3 linked regions of the Homo sapiens genome follow. The protein of the gene in region 2 purifies or fractionates together with the protein of the main gene of each other region. This does not show direct contact. Each region holds a gene or a part of one and is shown on either strand. Other genes may lie near its edges.

Region 1 (4,419 bases), on a different chromosome or scaffold from region 2:
TCAAAGTAGTTAAGAATTTTCTTACCTACACTCACATGACAGAAATCAGTTCTCTTGAAGTAACTTCATCTTCTCTTTGAGGAAAACTGGTAAAACTTAAAAAATCTTAAAGCTAAAAAGATGAGAATCTCACATTCAAATATAGATTCCAGTTTTCCATTTTACCCTTTTTATTGCTTATTCATGATTTTTATGAAGGATGAGCCCTATACCTTTCTGGTTTAGTCCCTAATGAGAGAAGTCTTAAAGTGTCTTTTTAAATGTTTTGCTAATAACCTCATGCAGAGATACTTGATCAATCTATGACTTAAGTATCTAGTGAGCCACCCTTGAGACCTTTCCTTCTCAAAGTCTATTTATATTTACTTAACAATTCTAACAAGGTGGGTGACGAGCTTTCCAAGTCAGTATCAGATCAGAAGGGGATAAAATTGCTAATAAGGGAACAACAGAGAAGATAAAAAATCTTAAGTACTCAAGAACCACAACAGACCAGGGTAATCAACTCTACAGGAAAAGACACCTACATACCTCAAACAGTTTTGAAAGCATCAAAAGCATCATAGTCTAATCAAGTTATTGATTCAAGTTATCATTTAAAAAAAAGTCTGTGACAAGTAGTATCTTTCATTTTCTTTTACCCTCATTAATTTTTCAGATGTGTGAGTGCCTCTGAGTTTAATTTAAGAAAAAACAGGACAAGAACAGTTGGGCTGTTTAACTAACTGAAATAGCTATTTCTGATCACAGTATGCCATTAAAAGGTATTAAACAGAAGGTTTAAGGCATTTTAGATCTTCAACTCTTATTATAACCTCTAGCCTTTCAAGGACCAAAATAAGTGTTTGTGCATTTACTGATTTATTTAGGTTCATTGTGTACCTTATCAGAGGCCAACTGAAACTTATGGGATTGTTATCTGAAGACTAACAGACCTTTAGATACCAACACATTCTAATCTCTTCAAGGCTGGTCCTACTATGGCCCACATCTATGGGAGCTTATTAGAGATGCAGACTTACCAGCCTCACCTCGCACCTACGAGTCAGAACCTGCATTTTAACAAGATCCCTAGGGGATGAGCATTCACATCAAAGTCTGAACATCACCACTCTTGCACTGTTCTAACAATTATTCAGGAATATCTATCTGAATTTTTATTTTTGAGAAAATAAGATTTAAGCTTTCTGAGAAGAGGATCATTCCTTTTTTTTTTTTTTTTTTGAGACAGTGGCTCACTCTGTCACCTAGGCTGGAGTGCAGTGGCACAATCATGGCTCACTGCAGCCTTGACCTCCCTGGGTTCAGGTGTTCCTCCCAGTTTAGCCCGCCAAGTAGCTAGGACTACAGGTGTGCACCACCACACTCAGCTTTTTTTTTTTTTTTTTTTGGTGGGGAGGGGGTGGTTTGTAGAGACAGGGTTTTGCCATGTTGCCCTGGCTGGTCTTCAACTCCTAGGCTAAAGCGATCCTCTTGCCCTGGGCTCCCAAAGGGCTGGGATTACAGGCATGAGCCACTATGCCTGGCCAGCTCATTCAGCTTTTACTGTGTTTTTTAGGGAGTCTCTACTTTCCCCAAAGATTAAGAATCACTGCATTATTACGTCAAGCATAAACACTCAGTATAACAGCATTGACTATTCAGGAAGAATCATGTACCAGCGACCGGGCTATGGCAGCTGCTGAGGAGAAGCAGCCTCCATGCATAAATCACAGGATTGCTATGGCCCATCGAATCCACTGGAGAGCTGTCCATGCACAACAGCATCCAGCAACCACAGGGCAGGGACAGAGCAGGTTAACCTTGCACAACAACCTTGTTGTGCAGAGGGATGCCATCCCCTTTGCTTCCCTCTTATTATAATCCAGGCCCTTGACTCTTCGCTGCTCCACAACTCCTTCAGGTCACCTTAACCTCAACTTCCCGTTCAGCAATTTCGAGACCACCCTCCCTGATATTAACTACATATTATTCACATTACTTCATATTATTTTGCCTCAATATATTTTAGAAACGCACACTAAAACCATGTTTTGTTTAAAATTTCATAATTCCTTCCAGAATTGCTTCCCTTTTAAACTACTGTATTAGTGGTTCCAATATTCTTCCCATTACTTAGGCATGACATTTTTGAGTCACCCCTGACACTACTCAGAAGATACACACAACCAATTAATCATCAAGTCATGTGGATCCTACCTATAAGCCTATTTCTGTTCCCCCTTTTCATTCTCCTCTAAATCCATTTCTGTTTCTCCTTTTATTCTCAGGTCTTCATAATCTATTAAGTCAAATGTAACCTGAAAGTGGGACCGTCTCAAACGTTTCCTCAATTTAGTTATATCCTATTAACATAGACTCCACAGGTATACTCATGCAAATGTACAAAATGTGTATACAATGACATTCACCGAATAATTGTTTCTCCAGGCAAATAACTGAAAACAATCTAAATATTCATGGTGACTGAAGTAAATTACGGTACATCAATAAAATAAGTATCTCGCAGCCATTGAAGGTAATAAATTAAGACATATAAAAATACGTATTGCCTATACATAAAGTCACAGCTATATCAATTTATACTATGTATATCATTTTAAAAAGATTTTACTCATTTCAAACACTACCTCATTCAAAAAGGCGACCATAAATTCCTGAGGCTGGAAACGAACGAACGGCAAGCCCCGAAGAAACACGCTCTTTTAAAAATTAAATCTTGTGCTACTGTTTCGGGGTTGTAACGCGTGCGTGACCCTCGTCTTTGAGGGCCGGATCCTGCAGGGAAGAGAGGGCGTACCTGAGGGGCCTCGCGTGCCTGGACAGCCCCGCGGGCCAGCAAGCCTAAAAGCAACTCATCCGGCGTCCACGCTGCAACCGGGCGCACGGAGGTGATGCAACGCGCTGAAAATGCGGGATCCAGTGAAGGAGACAGGCTCCGCACCGGCCAATCAGTGCGCGCTGCCTGACACCTGCCAACAAGCCAGGCGCCGATTGGTCGCGCCGGACATGATTGCGCCCACTGGCTCGGATGGTGCGACAGTGGTGCTTGCTGGTTTTGCGCCTCCACGTGGAAAACGAACCAGCGCTGAGGGCGGCGCTGTGCGTGCTGCTTGTATCCGTTGCAGTAGTGTAGACCGAGGTCTCACTCGGGTTGTGGGCACCTCCGGGTAGGTGACGGCCCACTGGGAAGGGGCGCCGAGGTCGGGGCTCATGTTCTTCATCTTGTTTGCTTTTGTCAGTATTTATCTGACTGGACACTTCGTACCTAAATTGATAACGACAAACAGCAACTTCCGGAGAGGTGGCTTTAATAATTATACTTTTGGGCCCTGAGCCGCCGACCCCAAAGCCGCTTCTCCTATCATAAATGGCTACGTGAAACGATAATAACAAAAGGGAAGGAAGGGTCTGACAACCAGATTTAAAAGTTTTATTGTATTTTACTTAAAATGTTTCCGGTAATGAAAACATTGCACAAACGATTTTTTTTTCTTTTTTTGAGAAGCGGTCTCATTCTGTCGCCCAGGCTGGAGTGCAGTGGCACGGTCATGGCTCACTGCAGCCTCAACCTCCCCGGATCAGATGATCCTCGCACCTCATCCCTGGCCAAGTAGCTGGGACTACAGGCTAGCGCCACCACGCCCGGCTAATTTTTGTATTTTCTGTAGCAACGGGGTCTTGCTATGTTGCCTAGGCTGCTGTCAAACTCGTGGGCTCAAGCGATCTGCTTGCCTTAGCCTCCTTAACTGTTGGGATTACAGGCATGAGCCACTGCACCCGGCCTGCATACTTATTATCATTGCTATGAGTCGGCTTGGTACCTTACTGATCTGCTGGTTAAAATCTGGAGCCTTGCAAAGGGCAGTAGGCCTCGGGCTTTGGCCCCAGAGCCTCTAAAGGAAATTCTGGATCTTGCCAAATTGGGAGTAGTTCCGTAGCTGCCTATTGTATCCGTTAGAGGGATATAAAAAATTTATCTGGCCTAGAATAGGTAGAATGCAGTTTCTTATTAAGTTTAGGAACATTTTGATAGTCTGTTCAGCATATATTTAACTTTACTTACCGTCTTGGCCCTGTGTGAAGGATTAAAGTGGTTTCATGTCCTCCATCATGGGTAACTCAGTGTTCTGACTATACTCACATAACGTACATAATTTAATAGCTGCAAATCTTGTTAATTAACTGAAAGTATTTGGAATGTGTTTGAAGTTTTCACATTCCTCACGTTGCCACCTTGTTCAGTTCATTTTTGTCACCTATCCAGAGAGCCCAGATAGAGCCAGACAGAGGGCTCCTGGACAAAGGTGAGGTAGGCCAAGTCTAATTATTTAAAAATTTGATTGAGAAACATTTATATTAATAGTACTGTTGTGTTGGAAATAATGCTCAAAATCCTAAGGAAATTGAACATTCAAA
Region 2 (3,649 bases):
TACTTCTGTTTGACTTTTTTTCTAAAATGAAAAAGCAGTCTGTGAAATGCGTGTTAAGAACGATCTATCTAGAGTCGCACAGGGTCCAGGGCCGCTGCAGTTGACTCAGTTGTTCCCATCCTCGTTTTATTTGACAAAGTACTTCATTTGGCCACTCTGGAAGAATTTATTTTCTTGATATCAACTGGGCTCAGAATCAGTGTTCCATTTTTGAATTTTCCAACCTGTCCAATCCGTCCATTTGACAAAATACTGGGAGCGGACTTCTTTTTGGATTTCCTACATTTAAAGTAAGAGAAAGGTACTATAAATAGTCAAGCTTACCAACAAGCATCACAGTACCACCAACCAGGCCACTGCAGTCTGGCCTGCAAACTCCTGGTCGCCTGCCATGCACACCCCCCACCCCATACGCCTTCCTGTGGTCCCTGAAACATGCTACTGCCTTCCTGCCTCAGGGCCCTTGCACTGGTTTCTTCTGCAAGGAATGTTCTGCTACCAGCTCTTTCCAGGCTGCCCCTCTTCTTTGTTCAGTTCTCAGCTCCGATGTCACCTCCTCAGACTAATTTCCCAGCTCACCTTCTCCCTGTGGTTTTCCTTCACAATGCTCTCTTTCAGCCTCTCTACAATACTTGCCAGTACCTGATATCATCTTACTTATCCATTTGTATGTTTTGGGGTGTTTCTCTCCCTACAATGAAGCTCCTCAAGGGCAGGGATATCTTTAGTGTGATTACAGCTGTACACCAATACCTAAGACACCCACATGCCTGGCACAAAGAGGCATTCAACAGATACAGATCGGTGGCCAGAACAAATGACCATTTTACAGCATGTACAAGTGCACTAGGAGCCCAAGAAAACAGGCTAAGACAAAAAGAGTCCATTCTGAAACAGTAACTCAAAGACAGAGAAAAAGGCATTTGAACAAAAGCTAACAAACAAGTATAAAGCAACAAAGTCAACATCCCTTATTCATAATTACGGTGCTCTATCTTACGTGGTATGTCAAAGAGCAGGCTATACAGACCCAGACTACGCTGCTGTAGCAGCACTCTTAGAAGTCTTTTCTTGGAAATGTAAACTGCAGCTTTTCCACTAGTCACTTAGAGTGTCGGTGAAAAGTGGAAGATTGGAGAAACTTCCTAATTCAGTTCTCAGGCAGTTGTTTGATCTTGGGCAGTTTACTAAATCCTACTTTGACAAGGATAAATGAGAGACAGTGAAGCGCTCTAATGGGCTAGCAACACCACATACATTCAAGGCGTCCTTGTCAGAACTCATCAGTAGGTTCATCCAGATTGTTCAACCCCAGGACCTGATAAAATCACTCACCTGTCCTCCTGTCCTTTCCTCTTCTTTTTCTTGAAAATATCTGTTTCTTGGGCCTGATTTCAGAATTTAAGATCATATACATATTAGTAGTGGATAATGGGATTCAAACAAAAGGCAAGAGGTTTGTGACCAAAAGTCATTGAGATACCATTTTTAACATTTCTTTCAAGTGGGCATATTAAACATAACAGTCTCAAAGTTTTACCCTAAAACCCTTTCAAGAATGTGAAAGGCTGGGCCTGGCGTGGTGGCTCATGCCTATAGTCCTAGCACTCCAGGAAGCCAAGGGGGGAGGATCACTTGATCCCAGGAGTTCAAGACCAGCCTGGGCAACACAGCAAGATCCTGTCTCAGTTAGAAAGAAAAAGACAAAAGAATGTGAATGGCTATTCCAGGTAAGACTAATAGTCTTACACTGAAAGCTCAAATCTTCCATTTTAGGTGAAAGGTAGAAAGTGTAACATCTATTCCCCTTGTGGTTTTTCATAGGCCCTTGTGTTGTATACAAGGTTATACAACGTAAAATGCAAAAAAAAAAAAAAAAAAAAAAAAAAACCTAAGTATAGAAGAAAGATCAAAGTAGCCTGCATTATTGGAACAGGATTGCTATAGTTTGGATAGCTGACCCTCCAAACCTCAGGTTGAAATTTGATCCCAACATTAGAGACGGGACCTAGTGGGAGGTGTTTGGGTCATGGCAATGGATCCCTCATGAATGGCTTGGTGCTGTCCTCATGGTAATGAGTGAGTTCTCCCTCTGTTACTTCCCACTTCCCATGAGAGCTGTTTGTTAAAAAGAGCCTGGCACCTCTCCCCACTGCTGCTTCGCTCTTTCATGTCTCGCTCTTGCCATGTGATCTCTGTACACATGGGCTTCCCTCTGCCTTCCCTCATGAGCGGAAGCAGCTTCAGATGCTCACCGGAGGCCGAGCAGATGCCAGTGCTATGCTTTCCATGCAGTCTGCAGAACCATGCTCCAAATCAGCCTCCTTTCTTTATAAATTACGCAGCATCAGGCATTCCTTTACAGCAACAAAAACGGACTAAGACAAGGAGTTTGCTATTTCAAAGCAAATCTTGCATGTAAGTACGCCAGATTACTTGGCTGGTATTACTAAACAGAGCTAACTCGAAGAAATGGGGAGCATGGGATCCTTTAACTCTGGTGCCTTCATTGCTCTCCAAGCAGCGGCTTCCGGCATTCCACTGTGGCAAAGAGCATCCATCTTCCCATTCTAGTTGAATAAAGGACAGACCATCACACCTACCAGTCTCTTTTCTTCTTCCTTTGCTGCCTTTTTTTCTTTAATTTGCTCCTGTAAAACCTTGTAATTCACATAACTCTTTTTAGGAGGCTGTAATGAAAGAACAAAGAAACAAACCATCATATTTTATTCTGCAAAAATGTTCCAGTGTCCCTTGCCCTGACTTGCTCTTAGCTTTCCTTGCTCTTGCTTTTTTTGCATGTTGTCTAGTGATGAAAGGTAGCAGCAGCCCCTCACCTTAGCGCCCAGCATAATGGCACGTTCCTGTTCCAGGATTCTCTCCTTTCCTTTTCCATAACCCGTGATACCAAACCGGTGCACTTCTAAACGAGCCTGCGGACACAAAGCATAATCAGACGCAAGTGCATTCCAACAACTCCAAAGAAAAAAACATACTGCCAGAAGTAATGCATTTCAGATCCACCGCTCTGTAATGACAGCGTACAGGAATAATAACTCCACTGTCATGTGGTCAAAGGAGCTCTATGGAGGCTCTCCTACCATACACCATCTCTCACAACATCTTTCTCCTGTTTTTTTTCCTTTGAGACAGGGTCTTGCTCTGTTACCCGCCAGGATGGAGTACAGTTAAAAAGAGGCATGATCATGTCTCACTGCAGCCTTGACCTCCTGGGCATGTGATCTCCTGCCTCAGCCTCCCGAGTAGCTAGGACTATAGGCACGCACCACCACACCCAGCTAATTCTTAAAAAATGTTTTATAGAGAAGAGGTCTCACTATGTTGCCCAGACTGGCCTTGAACTCCTAGGCTCAAGTGATCCTCCCACCTCAGCCTCCCAAAGTGCTGGGATTATAGGTGTGAGCCACCGTGCCTGGCTCTCGCCCACGGTTTTTTTTTTTTTTTTTTTTTGAGACGGAGTCTCACTCTGTTGCCCAGGCTGGAGCACAGTGGCATGATTTCAGCTCACTGCAAGCTCTGCCTCCTGGGTTCATGCCATTCGCCTGCCTCAGCCTCCCGAGTAGCTGGGACTACAGGTACCTGCCACCATGCCCAGCTACTTTTTTGTATTTTTTAGTAAAGATGGGGT
Region 3 (3,649 bases), on a different chromosome or scaffold from region 2:
GGGCTTAGAACCTAGGCAGTACCTGGTGACAGGCAGGTCTTCGTTAGGCACATATGTAGGCTACTGGGGGATCACATAGGCATCAGACCGTATTATCACCCTCCTTTTCTCCACCACGTTCCCAAACCATTGATCCAAAAGGCCACTACATAACTACCCTGCTTATTGAGCACACGCTTAAAATGCTTTAAAAGTTTCCAGCAGTCTTGTTAAGTAGAATTCTTCTCACTTCAGGTTTCATGATCTAAAGTGAGCATATACCAGTCTAAATCCTAATATTTACTAGTAAGCTCCACTTAAAAATGTATCCCAAACTACGCCATCACTCCTATCATCACTGTGGTCTGAATCACCTAGACCTCTTGCTTGGACTGTGGGAGCCTCCTGACAGGCTCTTGCCACTGACTTCCTAACAACCCAAGGTCCACATAACAACCCAATTAACCAGTCTGATTGTGAACACACAGCCTTGGCAATGGCTTCTTGCAAAACTCAGAGAAGCTCAATCCCTCCCATGGCCTGTAAGATCCTTGACGATACAGGTCCTGCCACCCTCTCTGACCTCATTTATCACTGTCCCTTCTGGTCACTCTGCCTCGCACTGCTGTTCTCTCTGGACACTCCCCATGTGCCTGTGTGGCTTACTCTGTCTGAAGAGGTGAGATGCCTTCCCAAACCACATCATTAATCACAGTCCCTCCTCTCCTTATCTAGGCCCTTCCCTGCTTTATTTGGTTTTTCAGCACTTCTCAACATGTGTCAATTGTCCTGCAATAAGAGCATGTCCCAGACCAGGCACAGTGGCTTACACCTATAATCCCAGCACTTTGGGAGGCAGAGGCAGGTGGATCACTTGAGCTCAGGAGTTCAAGACCAGCCTGGCCAACATGGCGAAACCCTATCTCTACCAAAAATACAAAAAATTAGCCAGGCATAGTGGTGTGAGCCTGTAGTCTCAACTACTCGGGAGGCCAAGGTGGGAGGATCACTTGAGCCCAGTAGGCAGAGGTTGGGGTGACCCATGATCATGCCACTGTACTGCAGCATGGGTGACAGAACGAGACCCTGTCTCAAAGGGAAAGGAGGAGGGAGGCTGGCCTGGTTCTCTGCTGATGCCTCCTCTACCACTGCAGCAATGTAGGTACTGTGAGTGCTTGAGTGAAAGTTTGGTAGAGGAATGGACTTCTCTCCCACAGAATCTCTTATTTCCCGGTTTTCCTCACTCAAGTTTTGTTACTTCCAATCTATATAATCCCAGATGAGCAACATAAAGTCCCTACATTTAATAACTACGAACCCATTAACAAGACCCAAGTCTGCCAAGATTATTAAACTGAAGTCACAGACAAGACTTGTTTGCATACTGCTGGAATGTCCCCAGTATGTTGGGTTTCTGGTTTGTAACACACCATTTCAGGATGCAGCCTCTGGTAGATGAGTAAATGCCATGATTTTGCTGTTTACAGCCCTTTCTGGAATTCAGTAATTCTCAATCATGTTCATTAACAAAGACTCAAAGTAAATAAAAACAGTAACTTACTTAAATTCTTCTTGTTTCTGTTTCTTGTAGTCTTGTCTATATTTTGTAAAGGCATCAAATAAATGATAAATAATTTCTGCACTAAAAATTCTAACTCCTAAACTATCAGCCATTTCTTGTGCATCTCGTTCAATTCTCACATCGAAGGCCAAAATTACTGCATACCTAAAAGGTTAAAACACATCAAAGACCATTCAGTGAAAAACAGAGTATGTCACAGAGGACAGTTTTTTAAGATAGGACAGTTTTAAGATAGCTACGTAACATGAAAGCCTTCATAGCAAGAGAAATTACTTACTGAGGGTCATGTTCCAACATCACTGAAGCCTTCATAACATCTTTTTTATGCACTGGGCCAATGTTAATTCCTGCATACTGAAAAAATGGGAGTTTCCATGTTTATCTGTATGTATCAGGTAATGGCGATGGCACCAAAAACCACGACCAACCACCATTCACTTGTGGAGCGAGTTGTAGTTACTTACGGGCACTTCTGATGTTTTCAGAAATTCCAGTAGAGCTTCCAAAGAACCCAGTGTAGATGCCTGGACATAGACTCCTTTTTCTTCTAATTTGATAGCATTTAGTGTCTGCTTTAACTCATGGATCAATTCATCCTTGAAAAGAAATCAGATTTGATAAGGTTGTCAACACACCTCTATCCTCAGCAGTCTAGAATTAAATTGTGTTTCTCTCTTTGGTTAAGTACTCATCTGCAAATATGAAACTAAGGCTTAGATAGAGCAAGGCATCACAGAACCTGTGCTGGAATGAAGGAGGAGATTTCGGGGCCATACCCTAACTGTATTTCGCTTCACCTTTGTCTTAGGTTTACTAACTTTGAAATATGTTTAATCTCCGCTCCACTTGGCAAATACAGTAGATGGGTGGGCAGAATTAAACAGTAGAGAAGAAAAATTTTTTTAAAGTTAAAAAAGTACCACATAAACGTAATGTGTTATGATAGCCCAAAAGTTCAGCTTGTCTGTGTTAACTAGGAAATACCATAATCTCATGATCTCAGCAGCTCCTTCCTCCATCACTGCTTGTCGGGAAATGGAAGAAGAGATTTTTAACCAGAAATAAGTAAAACAAGTTTATCAATGCCACTGAAGGGACGTAAGTCCACTCCATACTCAGGACTGGGTGAAGAGACAGGCCTGCCCTATTCTCTCACTGGCCCTAAGATAGCTTATTCCCAACAGCATGACTTGATGCTGCCTAAATAATAAACACGGCCCCAGGACACAAGAGCCATGTGCTGGGAACAGTTGTATTTTCTCTTTGGCAAATGAACAAACTATGGCTCAAAGTCCACTTTTATGAAACTACAATGGACATGGGCCAAAAAGAATATACAATTTCTAGCTTTTTTTTTTTTAGACAGGGTCCTGCTGTCACCCAGGTTGGAGTGCAGTGGCACGATCTTGGCTCACTGCAGCCTCTGCCTCCCAGGTTCAAGTGATTCTCCTGCCTCAGCCTCCCAAGTAGCTGGGACTACAGGTGTGCATTCACCATGCCCAGCCGACTTCTAGCTTTTGACTCATTTTTTTATTTGAATAAAATGCATTATTTTTATAATTCTAGTACATATAAAAATTATACCAATTTCTATGATTGTACAAACTGAAGTAATTCAAAAGCATCAAGTTTGCTAAGAGGCCAAGAAATGGCAGGCTTCACAAAGACAAAGCCAGTTTTGGTCACCATCCCTAGCATGTGCAATGCTGACACATGCCAGAACTCAAATAGCTTTTAAGGAAAAAAATTTTTAAATGAACTTACTTTAAGAACAGGGATTTCATCTTCTTTATAAGCCACAAGGAGGGGTAAACCAGCCAATGTTTTCTCCAGGTCTTTTCCAAGAATCTTTACCCCCTGAGCTGCTTCTACTTCTTTATGCTTTTCATACTGGTTCTACAGAGATAAAAACATTTGTTACCAAATGTACTTTAAAAGTGGTTAGCAGTAGAAGATGATATAAGAGAATCTCATCATGATATTAGAGAGAGGTTTCTTAAACGAGGCACAAAAAGCAATAATCACAAGACTGATAAATTTAACATTAAAATTAAATATTTCCATTTCTCAAAATACCACAGGAAAAAA

The links.
Region 1: the proteins of FSAF1 (region 2) and IARS1 purify together in Homo sapiens (affinity purification with mass spectrometry, with the first as the bait; one study listed by BioGRID). This does not show direct contact.
Region 3: the proteins of FSAF1 (region 2) and EIF5B purify together in Homo sapiens (affinity purification with mass spectrometry, with the first as the bait; one study listed by BioGRID). This does not show direct contact.

The regions. Positions count from the first base shown.
Region 1 is NC_000009.12:92,290,811-92,295,229, forward strand, and holds the start of IARS1 (isoleucine--tRNA ligase, cytoplasmic), read right to left. Parts: upstream 2,888-4,419; 5' UTR 2,801-2,887; exon of another isoform or gene 2,631-2,800; intron 1,784-2,630; exon of another isoform or gene 1,648-1,783; intron 113-1,647; exon of another isoform or gene 26-112; intron 1-25. UniProt on the Homo sapiens protein: Catalyzes the specific attachment of an amino acid to its cognate tRNA in a 2 step reaction: the amino acid (AA) is first activated by ATP to form AA-AMP and then transferred to the acceptor end of the tRNA.
Region 2 is NC_000001.11:231,224,136-231,227,784, forward strand, and holds part of FSAF1 (40S small subunit processome assembly factor 1), read right to left. Parts: intron 2,934-3,649; coding exon 2,838-2,933; intron 2,691-2,837; coding exon 2,604-2,690; intron 1,389-2,603; coding exon 1,336-1,388; intron 280-1,335; coding exon 144-279; 3' UTR 1-143.
Region 3 is NC_000002.12:99,392,775-99,396,423, reverse strand, and holds part of EIF5B (eukaryotic translation initiation factor 5B), read right to left. Parts: intron 3,458-3,649; coding exon 3,326-3,457; intron 2,158-3,325; coding exon 2,026-2,157; intron 1,916-2,025; coding exon 1,839-1,915; intron 1,706-1,838; coding exon 1,541-1,705; intron 1-1,540. UniProt on the Homo sapiens protein: Plays a role in translation initiation.